Regions from separate parts of the Homo sapiens genome. Here all the other regions are reported to be linked to region 3. Evidence: microRNA targets listed by miRTarBase, many of them from high-throughput screens and not tested one by one. Region 3 holds a microRNA gene; each other region holds the end of a gene's coding sequence.
Evidence for each region. The annotated mature microRNA hsa-let-7d-5p reads AGAGGUAGUAGGUUGCAUAGUU and lies in region 3 at 2,789-2,810, shown strand. An mRNA with a match to its seed (bases 2 to 7 or 8) in the 3' UTR can be bound and repressed. Matches are read on the target gene's strand: a 7mer-m8 pairs with bases 2 to 8, a 7mer-A1 pairs with bases 2 to 7 and ends in A, and an 8mer does both.

Region 1: the mRNA of SLC12A7 is a reported target of hsa-let-7d-5p. Seed matches in the 3' UTR shown: 7mer-A1 at 848-854.
Region 2: miRTarBase lists NEMP1 as a target of hsa-let-7d-5p. Seed matches in the 3' UTR shown: 8mer at 1,991-1,998.

Annotation. Positions count from the first base shown.
Region 1 is chr5:1,048,624-1,052,689 of GRCh38, reverse strand. SLC12A7 (solute carrier family 12 member 7) reads left to right here. Exons shown (of 24, transcript NM_006598.3): 24 at 239-2,306. The coding sequence ends at 330. Among named protein-coding and RNA genes, the nearest start is that of MIR4635, 12 kb to the left of the region's middle.
Region 2 is chr12:57,056,095-57,060,160 of GRCh38, reverse strand. NEMP1 (nuclear envelope integral membrane protein 1) reads left to right here. Exons shown (of 9, transcript NM_001130963.2): 9 at 102-4,066. The coding sequence ends at 282. Among named protein-coding and RNA genes, the nearest start is that of MYO1A, 8.0 kb to the right of the region's middle.
Region 3 is chr9:94,176,053-94,180,120 of GRCh38, forward strand. It overlaps MIRLET7D (microRNA let-7d), which reads left to right and starts at 2,782; the gene lies at 2,782-2,868. It overlaps MIRLET7A1HG (miRlet-7a-1/let-7f-1/let-7d cluster host gene), which reads left to right. Exons shown (of 5, transcript NR_170278.1): 3 at 3,768-3,869. MIRLET7F1 (microRNA let-7f-1) reads left to right here and starts at 295; the gene lies at 295-381. It overlaps LINC02603 (long intergenic non-protein coding RNA 2603), which reads right to left. Exons shown (of 3, transcript NR_160773.1): 3 at 517-1,679. RefSeq lists an enhancer at 3,193-3,242.

The DNA.
Region 1 (4,066 bases), not on the chromosome of region 3:
CGTCCTCCCTGTGGCCACGGTGCTCCCTCTCTTTCCCGAGCACTGGCCCCTCTCTCCCCTGCCCTGCTCCTCCCCGCCTGGGGGGTCTCTCTAATCCCCACCTCTCTTTTCACCTTGGCTCTGGGTTTCTCAAACCAAATCTTAGCTAACCAGGAGAGGATAAACCTCACTCCTATCACGATTTCAGCTACACACGCTCAGGTAAGATCAGCTGTGGCCTTAACTCTGTTGACCACAGACATGGAGTTTCTTGAAGTCCTGACCGAGGGGCTGAACAGAGTCCTCCTGGTCAGGGGTGGCGGCCGGGAGGTGATCACCATCTACTCCTAATGCCCAACAGCATCACGGCACTCTGGGACAGGCACGGAGGACGGCGTGGGCAGCCTGGGCCTGGGCTTGGCCCAGGGAAACAGACGGCAGACACACCTGTCCCCCAGTGATGCCGCCCAAGCTGCCCATGGGGCTTCCTACGGAAGTTTCTAGGCCCGTCACCTAGGGCTCTCCTGTTCAGCCTTAACAGGCTCAGCAAATCAGGGCGTGGCTGGACGATTTCCTTGCATCTGAGGGCAGACGCTGCTACCGGAGTGACCTGGACGTGGCCAGATCTTCTCGCAGGTCACAAGAAGCCAGTGAGCCCTTGCCTTGGTTTCTGGAAGTTCTTTTCCTTGGCTGGATTTACCCAGTGGTTAGGTTGCATTTCTACCCCATCCAGAACATTCTTGGAAGAGCACCCGGAGCTGAAGCTGTCCCTGATGATGAAGGTGAAACGTCAGCCCTGGCCATGGCTCCGCTCAGGGCCCCGGTCACCTCCGAGTCACTCTGTTCCTTGACTGTCTTTGTGTTTCTGTACCTCAAGGCACTGAAGCTGGAGGACTCTGTCCATGCCCGTGTCACCCTCGTGTGGGAGCCTCTGGGCTCGGCAGGTCCACATTTCATGAGCTGAGGCGTGGGCCAGGGCCATCTGGAAAGGGAACTCGGCTTTTCCAGAACGTGGTGGATCATCTGTCGGGTGTGTGGTGAACACGTTCAGTTCATCAGGGCCTACGCTCCGGGAAGGGGCCCCCAGCTGTGGCTCTGCCATGCCGGGCTGTGTTTGCAGCTGTCCGAGTCTCCATCCACCTTTAGAAAACCAGCCACTTCTTTTCATAAGCACTGACAGGGCCCAGCCCACAGCCACAGGTGCGATCAGTGCCTCACGCAGGCAAATGCACTGAAACCCAGGGGCACACGCGCGCAGAGTGAACAGTGAGTTCCCCCGACAGCCCACGACAGCCAGGACTGCCCTCCCCACCCCACCCCACCCCAGGAGCACGGCACACAGTTCAGCCTCTGAGCTGGCTCACACGTGCCATCCCCACCCCGGTGCTCCAGGGAAGGAGGACACGGACCCGACGTGGGAGGTCCTCAGGCAGCAGTGGCGCCTGGTGTCAGGTCTGTCTGGCTGAGTCCCGGGCGTCCCCTGCCATGGCCTGTGCCTTGCATGGAGGCGGCGGTGGCACTGAAGAGATAGCTTTCAAGGGCCCAACACTTTGCACTTCGGCTGGCTGTGAGTTTCTGCTTTGTAGGTTGTGGTCACATTTGCAGGCTGCGGGCAGTGGCACCGACTTGGGCCTCCCTTTCTATGTGGCATATTTATTTATTTAAACACCCCAGGGAGTTACGTGGTAACAAGGTTGTCCATAAAGAGGTTGCTTCTATATACTAGAGGCCCCAGATGGCCAGGCCTTGGGCTACGTCTGGCTTGCATGGTCTCCCAAGGGAATCAGCCCCATCAACAAAGTTCAAATCGGGGCAGAGGCTGCACTTGTGCCCCCAGATGTTTCTGAGGAGCCAGACTAGGGCTGGCATTGCTGTAGAGTGACGGCTGCTGCCCAGAGCGTGTCCCAGACATCACAGCGGGGCTCAGCAGTTCCCACAGCCTCTGCCTGCCTTGGCTAAGCATGAGTTAAGCAGCAAAACGCTCCTCCATGTCTGGATGGGGCCGGCAGGTCCTGTGTCCCCTGCACCTGGAGGAGAGCAGGCTAGAGGCACAGCGGCCACATGGTGCTGGCTCTGAACGTTGGTTGGTGGCTGGAAAACAGCCCTGCTTCTGAGGGCCGCTCAGTTCTGCACACGAAACCACCTCCTGAGGGCTCAGCTCTGCCCCCGCCCTGGGCTGCAGCCTCTGCACGCAAGCACCAGGCATCCTTTGTGTTGTCAACTCCGTGTAACCAGTAACTACAGCCATTTACAATTGACTCCGTTTCCTTTTGTAGGTTTCCCTGTCTGTCTGTGTTAGTAGAAAAATAAAATCCTATGAAATCTGAGTACGTTGAAGAATCTCTTGAGTCTCATTCAGCATGAAAGACAGCTGGAGAAAATGTACTGGCCGCCCCTTTTCTAGCAGGAGCGTCAGGGCTGACCAGCCACAGCCAACTCAGGTGGCTGAAGAGTGACCATATGAATTGGACGAGGGCTTCCAAATCATGTCATCGGCTTGGAAATGACCTTACCCCAAACTTCCTAGTGCTGTGTGTTGAAGTGACCCAATCTCTGTATTTCTGAGACAGTCTCTGTTGCCTAGGCTGGAATGCAGTGGCGTCACCTCAGCTCACTGCAACCTCCGCCTCCCAGGTTCAAGCTATTTTCCTGCCTCAGCCTCCCGAATAGCTGGGATCACAGGCGTGTACCACCACGCCCAGCTAATTTTTGTATTTTAGTAGAGATGGGGTTTCACCATGTTGGCCAGGCTGGTCTCGAACTGACCTCAAGTGATCTGCCTGCCTCAGCCTCCTAAAGTGCTGGGATTACAGGTATGAGCCACCATGCCCGGCCATTCGATTTATAATTTAATTTATATAAGGATGGAGGCACCAGAGAGTCCGCCATGAGTGGGGACAGCGTGTTCTAACTCGTGAGATGCCAACTCACACCTGTGATGGTCACAGCCAAAACCAGAGAATCGCGGGGAGGACGTGCGGAATCGGACCCCTCTTGCAGGGTTGTAGCTGCACGGGAAGGGCCTGTGGTTCCTGAAAGTGTGAGAGACAGAGCCGCCCCTTCCCCGGCAGGTCCACTCCTGGTGTGTGGCACAGCCTCAGGAACGGGTGCACGCAAGTTCACAGCAGCCAAAATGGATGCAGCCCGAGAACATGCTGAGTCCATGTGGGCCGTGCCTGCTGCAGGCCTCTCAGCTAGAACCAGGAGCCAAGCTTGGAAGCCTCACGCTCGGGAGGAAGCTAGACACAAAGGGTCTCACGCTGTGGGACTGCACTTAACACGAAATGCCAGAGTGGGCCAGGCACAGAGGCAGGGGGTGCACTGGCGGGTGCTGGGGGTGGGTCAAGGGGAATGGGGGGAGATGGGGGATGGGGGGAGGCTGCTTACAGGGTATGGATTTCTTTTTGGGTGAAAATGTTCCGAAATGGCTGTGGTGAAGCTTATGTGACTGAACATGCTGGAACACTGCCTCGTGCACGACGAAGGGCGAATTGTGTGTGTGAAGCTGCCGGGCACCGTGTCCAGTGGGCCTGACACATGGTGGACAGGAAGGGACACGGCACAGGAGGGTGGCGGGTCCTGCTCTGGCTCTCGGGTCACAGGAGAGTGACCGTGAGAGCAGCGTCGTCCTCGGACCCCCGAGGGGTGAGTGCTGGCTGCACCCAGGCATCCACACCCGGGACTCAGAGCACGGGAGCGGCCGGCTGGGGTGGGCCTACTGTCCTGAGGGCCAGATGCTCACAAATTCCAGCAGGGAGGTTTGGAGACCCACTGATGCCTACACATCTGGGACCAGGGCCCAGCCAGAAACCCCTAGGTGTCCCCTTCCCTGGGACCCCAAAAACCAGGCTGCTTCCTAGCCTTGGCCGGTGCTTCCCAAGGAGCAAGAACTCGGCTAGAGCAGTCACCCACTCATTCACACACTTAACTCGCCCATTCACACGCTAACTCGCCCACTCATTCACACACTAACTTGCCCACTCGTTCACACACTAACCCACTCATTCACAAACCCACCCACTCATTCACACACTAATCCACTCACACACTAACCCACTCATTCACACACTAACCCACTTGTTCACAC
Region 2 (4,066 bases), not on the chromosome of region 3:
GAGTTGCGAGCATATCGAGGGCTTTAATTTGTTCTTATTTTGAAAGAAGACCAGAAAGGACAGAAGGATATTTCTAACGAGTATTATCTTCTCTTTTCCAGATTTGCTGACTTTGTGGAAGGCTCTTCCCACCTCACGCCAAATGAAGTTTCTGTCCATGAGCAGGAGTATGGATTAGGGAGCATTATTGCCCAGGATGAAATCTATGAGGAAGCATCCTCTGAGGAGGAGGACTCATATTCTCGGTGTCCTGCTATCACACAGAACAACTTTCTAACCTAGGTAGTGGTCAGTTATCTTTACGTGGACTGGCTTGGTGCCTTGGTCCATGTTGCATGTGTTGTGCAATTGCTTTCAACCCTTTGAAACAGAGTGAGATAGATAGGGTAGAAATTCTCCTACTGAAATAAGAGGCCTAAAAAGGCCTCCCTTTGGAAATGGGAGGTCTCTATGGGATCCCTGAGGAAGGAGAGTGGATAAAGTAGTGAATGCTGGGTAGTTCACTTCCCATTGGTTAAGCTAACAGCCCACTTTTATGTTTCCAGAGAAATTGGATGGCCACAGCTAGCATGGCATTCTAGCTCCTTCTTGAAAGTTGATTCAATCATGGCATTTCTGTCACTGGCTGGCTCTCCAAAGTAAGAACTGTTGTTAAGTGCAGGAATGCTTTTAGACTATAGGCTGCAACTTCCAGAGAGAAATCCACAAATCTGAGCCTCCTTCACTCCAGCTTTTATTTCAGTGACTTTAGAATAATTATTGATTTAACTGTTTTGGGAGGAAAATAGATTTTTATTGTTTTGTTTTTTAAATGAATGTCTTTTAAAAAACATAACAAACTCATGTTCCAGAACCAGCAAGTGCTCCAGAGTGACACACCCCCTAGGCCCCTACATATTTATTAATATGGATTATCCATTAAAGCCCCAGGAGCTGTTGTTTTAAGCTTTGATTTAGTTCTCATACATATGATAGAAAGTCCTATTTGCCTTTAGGAACATGCCTGTAGGCTCTTCTGCAGGTGAGATGTACTGGGCTTTTTATTATATTCAACTTTCAATTCCATCTTAAAAAACATTTGTATTCTTCTCTTCCCATTCTTCCTTACCCTGCCTTTGCCCTTTCAGGAAGGGTCAGTTCCCTTACCTGTGAACTATGTATGTTCAGAGTAGCATTATTCCTGCTAGCTAGGAGAAGTCATCTTGTTTAGGGGATTTGGATGCTTTTTATACGTTCTCCATTTTCCTGTCATTGGGTCATGTTATCTTTGAGTTGCTATGAAATCAGGAAACTGTCTCCTTTTCCTTTCCCTTCCTTTGTCTACATGCTCTGTCCATTCCTTTCAGCCTTTTCTCACCACCCATACTCCCCCAAATCTGGGTAATTTTTAAGCCTTGAAACTATGTAGTTTCTTGATACACAATTTGTAGTTATGCAGCAGCCACAATTTGCATTGCCAGGAAATAGGCTCCAGGTTATCTTCATGCCTCTGGGTGCTCATTCAGCTGTCAAGTTTCCATGAACTTACACTTATTTATGATTGCGTTTCTGACCTGAGATGTATGCTGCCTGTTATTGCAGTAGCATTAGTTTCAGATTCTTTTGCCATTGCAAAGTACCCCTTATAAACCAGCAATGTCATCTGTGAGGAAGCAAATTCTCAAGTGTCTGTCATTTACTTGGTTCTTTTTCTTTGTGGTCTTCACCCTTATACCCTGGAAAAGTCTGTAATTACCTTAGCCAGGAAGATAGATGGTCATGGCAAGCGCACAGCACCAGACTTACTGGCTCACCAAGATGATGGAAAAAGGCAGATGATTTTTTAAAAAGCCGTAATGACTCCTTTAGACCAGCCATTTAGCGTGGTAATTTTGAAAGGCCTAGCTCCATTGCAGACTTCCAAAGGGTCAGCTCTGAGACTGCCCTCCAGGTGGGCAGTTGATTATTTCCACCAGTGTTTTCCAGAGCCTTAAACTGTCCTAAGTGACAACTACCTCAGTTGGCAGGAAAGAGACATATAGTAGAAAGTGAAAAATGAGCAGTATTTGGGCAGATGCTATGGGTTACAGTTGAAGGGTAAAAGGAACTTTACATTGGGAAACCTTTATACCCTTGTGAATTATGTACATGGTAAAATGTTCTCTCTCTACAAAGAACTATTAAAACTTCTGAAATATACTATTTTTTACCTTATTTATAGAAATTGAGACCTAGCATATTTAAGCATAAGTTTATTTTAAAAAATAATTCAACTCGTGCAAGTGGTCTCAGGATTCTCTGGAGATTTTGGTGCCTCCCCTACTTAGGGAGGTGATAGCTTGCCTATAAGGGTGACTTTTCCTGATCATGTCTTTATTTCAATGAGAAAGCACTGTGAAATTGTGAAAGATTCTCCTCTTTCTCTGTTTAATAAACCCCCATGAAATATAGTTTCCATCTCTAGACCAGTTTTTTTTCCACCGTGTTTAGACTTGAGGTGAATAAAATCAAACTGTTTTTTACTCCCTATCTGGTAGTTGGAGACCTGAGCTGTAGGCAGTGGAGATGGCAATTGGTTCTGCAGCCTGAGAGTTGCTCTCACACAGTGAAGGACGGTGCTGCTCTGGTGTGCTGTGTGTCCTTGCCCTGCCTGCCTGTGGCTCTGCCCAGATGCTTCAGATCCTCTGTGTTCCGGAGATTGCTTGACTTCAACCTTCTTTAGGAGCTGCTCTTGTCTCCCTCTTGGCCACTTAGTTTGCTGGCTCAGTCACTACTTGAAGACCCCATTTAATTTTTCTCTGGCAGTTATAGCTCTTGTGATTTCAGTACAGTCTCATCTCTCAGACCAATCTCATCAAGAAGGATTGAAGGGATAACTATGAGGTAAGCTGGACATTGGAGCCGTGTTTGCTGCCACGTCAGCGTCTTGCTGGGTGAATGTCAAGCCATAAATGGGCTCCAGGGCTCTGGATCTCATCAGCATTGGAAATCTATTGCCTCTCATCAGTCTGACCAAATTATGTAGAGCATTAATGTAGAGACTCCCATTAATGGGAATACAAGAGGCAGCTGGCATAAAACATTTCTTTCACTTTCCTTTCCCACTCAGATTGCTTCAAGAGACCAACAGAACACAGGGATCAAAAACAAGGAAAATTTAGCAACTTCATTACCTTCTAATAAGTAATTCCTGTTAGCCACTGCATCCCACCAAAACTAGTTTATTTTTCCCCTCAAATTCATGATTTTTACGTCTGTTACAAAGGGAATTTTGCTGATAGCTCTTTGGGTCCCACTGTTCCATTTTATGCTAATAGATTCCATTCTAGGGCCCAGCCGTCTCTTGACTGATGGTGTTCCCTTTAACCCTTGGCATGTATAATAGAATTTTGGTGAATGAAAGAACCCAAATAGGCCAGATAGTCCCCCCAGGCCCTGATATCCATAAAAGGCTTGGGAATGCATTATGTAATTGTCCTTAGTCTTTTTGTTGTTTTAGAAAAAAAAAACAAGATGGGCTCAGATGGATGCCTACGTAAAAATGGTTCCTAGCTGTGTACTCATAACTTTTCTTTGAATTGAGTAGTGAAAGGAAGGAGGAGGAAAGGAAATTAAATGTCCTTCTAGTATTCTCTGGACTCAAGTCTGACATATGAGATAATAACCTATATTGAAATGCCAAGAATTGTATCTGAAACAAGAGAACAGTTTGACACATTTATCATGCCTTCATATTACATATTAACTGAAACCAATTAATAAACATATGAAATATCCATTGCACAAGGCAAAGGCACCTAAACCTTTTGTTTCTTTTTCTACATAGCAGAAATTGATTTTTTTTTTATTTTTTTAGGGGAACCTATATAATTATGACCCAGTGATGTCTTTTGGTGACTTAAGCTTATGAATTCAGGTTACAATTGAGTTGATTCTAGATGGTTACTACCTTGAAAAGGATGTTGGTGCCTTATGTGACACGAGCCAGAGCCTGCTGGGAATAAACAAAGCAGATTCATGCCAACACCAACTCGTAGCTTTAGTGGCAGATGGGAGTGGTCACAGACTCCCAAAATGTGGGGCTTTG
Region 3 (4,068 bases):
TGCATCCAGGCGGTCTGATAGAAAGTCAGTTAACTAATTGTACAATATTTAAGATTAACTTGTCTTAAAGAGATGTAGTGCAGCATTTGTTTATGGCCTGGAAATAAATTAATTTAGAGATAAAGTCTGTAGCAAGTACACTGGATGGGGGTGGGGAAACCTTTTGCTTCTTGTCTTATTTCTCTGTGTCAGAATAAATGTATTTTTTTATTTTGATTTATGCTGATAATTTTATGTTGAAATTTTCTTTCGAAAGAGATTGTACTTTCCATTCCAGAAGAAAACATTGCTCTATCAGAGTGAGGTAGTAGATTGTATAGTTGTGGGGTAGTGATTTTACCCTGTTCAGGAGATAACTATACAATCTATTGCCTTCCCTGAGGAGTAGACTTGCTGCATTATTTTCTTTTTATTTAGATGATATTAAAACTCAGAAGAATTAATTTTGACATTTTGTATTTACAGTTTATCAGTTAATTTTCTCTGTTCAAGTAGTACAGTAGGCACAGATTAACATTTAAATTTTTCACATATGGTATATTTCAGAAATTTGAAGTTAAGCAAAAATTTTAATGAGTAGAGAAAGTAAGTAGCCTTCAGGAAATCTTCATAGAGGACCAGGCCCTTTTGGAATTGTGAATAGGTTTATTGCCTTACATCCTGGTACACATGTCCAAGGTCAGGTCCTGGGTGGTAAAGGTAAATACAAATTGGAAGGGCACTGTGTGAGCCAAAATGAGTCAGATTAGTCATGATTCATTTCCAGTTTGGGTTTTGGGTGGTCTTGGAGAATGTTGTAAGCACTGCTTCATTGATAGGTTGATTGAGCCAGACTTTACTCAGCAGCCTGGAAAAGGAGAGATGGGCTCTGGGTTCTACCTTTGCTCACTGGTAAGTTGCTAAGATTTCAGCTTTGCCCTCAAACCCTGAAGTAGTCCTTCATTCACACAGTGGGATCACTCGAAAATGTCAGATGGGGAAGTCCATAGGTTGTTACTTTAAAGAAAATAGAAAAAATGCTGGAAAAGGTTTCTTCAATTTTAATACCCATGAAGGCCCATGTTTTAGCTTTCCTCCGATGGGCAAACCATACACTAACTTGGGCCTTGTAATCAACAAGCAAGGCTAAAAGCTCTCTAAGTGCTTGCTGTTTAAACTATTTTGTGTTGGAAGAAGAGTTGGAAAAGAGGCAGTGTGGAGGTGAGGGAGAAGTTCCCTCCCTCCAATCATTTCCAATAAATGGAAATTTAAGGAGAAATTTGTGTTTATCCTTAATATCTAAGATAATCACTGTGCAGTGCCATTGGTACTTTTCATGAGAGTAGAAACATCAAACTTCCTTGGATGGGCCCAACCCAGGTGACTTAACTCTGGACCAAATGTATGCTTTTTGTTTTATCCACTGTGGACAGCTGCATAGATAATTGGTCTTTGTTCTAAACTGCACATAAAAACATGGGAGAAAATGACATTTGTTGCCTTTTGATGTGCCAAAGAAGAGTGGGAATGTTCTAAGAATTCTTTTTGGCTTAATCTTTGTTGAATTGAAAATATGTATAACTCTTCTGCTGAAAGTGTAGCAAGTACAGTCATGAAATTTTGTGGTCTTCCTGACATGTTCTTCCAGCATAACGTTGCCACCTTCAGTTGGAAACGTATCCTTATCTAATAATTAAGCCCTGGAGAAAAATTAATTTATATATTTTATTAATTACATAAGGACATTGTTATTAGCTAAGCAGAGTAAGTAAATCGAAATAAAACTTTAAAAATGCCTTTATGGAGAGAATGACTATCTCTGAAAGCTTGTTTTTAATGATGATAAAATTCATGATCAGAATTTGTTTCTGTTTGCTTTAATTCAGGGGTCAAAAACTGAAATACCATCAGAGGCCCAGGAGGGGCTAGTTGTAACTGGCAAATATAGTAAATTAATTTGCTCTGGTTGATAGGTAGCAAGCAGGGTTTATATACATTGTCACCTACTTTTCCAGTTAACAGGAGAGACTGGAGATTTTATGAAATTTGATATTTAAATGTTGGTAACTGGGTTGGGCACCATGGCTCACACCTCTAATCCCAGCACTTCGGGAGGCTGAGGCGGGTGGAGCACCTGAGGTCAGGAGTTAAAGACCATCCTGACCAGCCTGGTGAAACACAGTCTCTAATAAAGATACAAAAATTAGGCCGGGTGTGGTGGCTCATGCCGGTAATCCCAGCACTTTGGGGAGGCCAAGGTGGGCGGATCACCTGAGTCAGGAGTTTGAGACCAGCCTGCCTAAATGGTGAAAACCTGTTTCTACTAAAAATACAAAAAAGTAGCTGGGCGTGGTGGTGGGCGCCTGTAATCCCAGCTACTCTGGGGGCTGAGGCAGGAGAATCACTTAAACCCAGGAGGCAGAGGTTGCAGTGAGCCGAGATCACACCACTGTACTCCAGCCTGGGTGACAGAGCGAGACTGTCCAAAAAAAAAATTGATAATTAAATGTTAAAAGTCAGCGACTCCAGTAATACGTGGTGGGCTGAGTATTAGACTACTGGCTTACATCCTCTGATGTCATTACTTTCTTGTTCGTTTGTGACTTGAGGTTGGATTTTAAGCAAATGTATTTGTGGCTTTTTACCAAGGTCATATGGCCAGATAACTTTTCAAAAGCATTAGTTAAAGAATTCTGATTAGTTTGAATTAGAAACAAAACTCAAAGAACATGACCTAATTTAACAGGTTAATTTGAAGTGCATCTGCCAAGTAGAAGACCAGCAAGAAAAAAAAAATGGGTTCCTAGGAAGAGGTAGTAGGTTGCATAGTTTTAGGGCAGGGATTTTGCCCACAAGGAGGTAACTATACGACCTGCTGCCTTTCTTAGGGCCTTATTATTCACCGATAACCTGTTTCCTTGCTACTTTGCTTTGGTGTAAGCAGAGTTCTTTCTGTAGGTTTTTTCAAATGAAAACATTGCAAGAATATCAAAGAGAGCAGTGTTTGCGTTAGTGATTATAAACTGCAGCATGGTGCTGACATTGATAACTGAAAGTCAACTAATGAGAATTTGAGACTTCTGAAGTACACTTAGTTGCTAGTGTCTCCCTTTTGGTGTCACTGGAAAGTTTAGAAAGCATGGTTTTGTTTTTGCTCAGGTTTCTCTTTCTGTGATGCAGAGACTCTCAGCTGTTCCTCCTCTATGTCTACATTATGTCTGAAGGAAAGAATTTAACAAAACTTGAAATACTGCTGTTTTTCTACAATGTTTGTAAATATTTATCTTGCTGCTTTTCTAGGTTTGTCTTCTGGATTTAAAATTTGGGGCGGCTGGGGTGGAATTGCATGGTTTGGGAATGGGTAATTGAGCTGCTGCTCATTATGGTATGTAACAGTGATTTGTCTGTTTAATATGTACAAGAACTGGAAGGTCAATAAAATGAAAGTGGTTGTCTTGACTGGGTAATAGTGTTACATATTTTGTTAAAAGTTATACATCTTTTCAATAAAAACACTGCATACTTCAAAACTAGTGCTTTTTAAGTCATCCTTAACCCTTATCCCCATCCTTGCAGTAGTAGATGCATTTTTCATTTGTAATTATTATGATTTGTTCTTAGTTTCATTTTTCATTAGCAATAATTTGGTGATTGGATGGTCATTTACAGATGTTTTAATAAAGCTAACACGAGCAATTTCCAGCTCTTCCATTTTTGTAAACACTTGTGTGACTTTGTACAGACAATTAACTGCTCAGGATCACCCTCCTTTTTGTTTTGTTTTTGAGATGGTCTCATTCCGTCACCCATGCTGGAGTGTAGTGAAATGATCACAGCTCACTGCAGCCTTGACCTCCCGGACTCAAGCTTCCTAGTAACTGGGACTACAGGTGCATACAACCATGCCTGGCTAATTTTATTTTTGTAGAGACGGTTTCACCATATTGCCCAGACTGGTCTTGAACTCCTGATTATCCTCTGGCTTTTACCTCCCAAAGTGCTGGCCAGGACAGCCTCCTTTCTTTACTTGAGTAATTATTTGAGTTTGCTCAGGCAGACACTACCTTGTAAAAACTCTTATGTCTCATT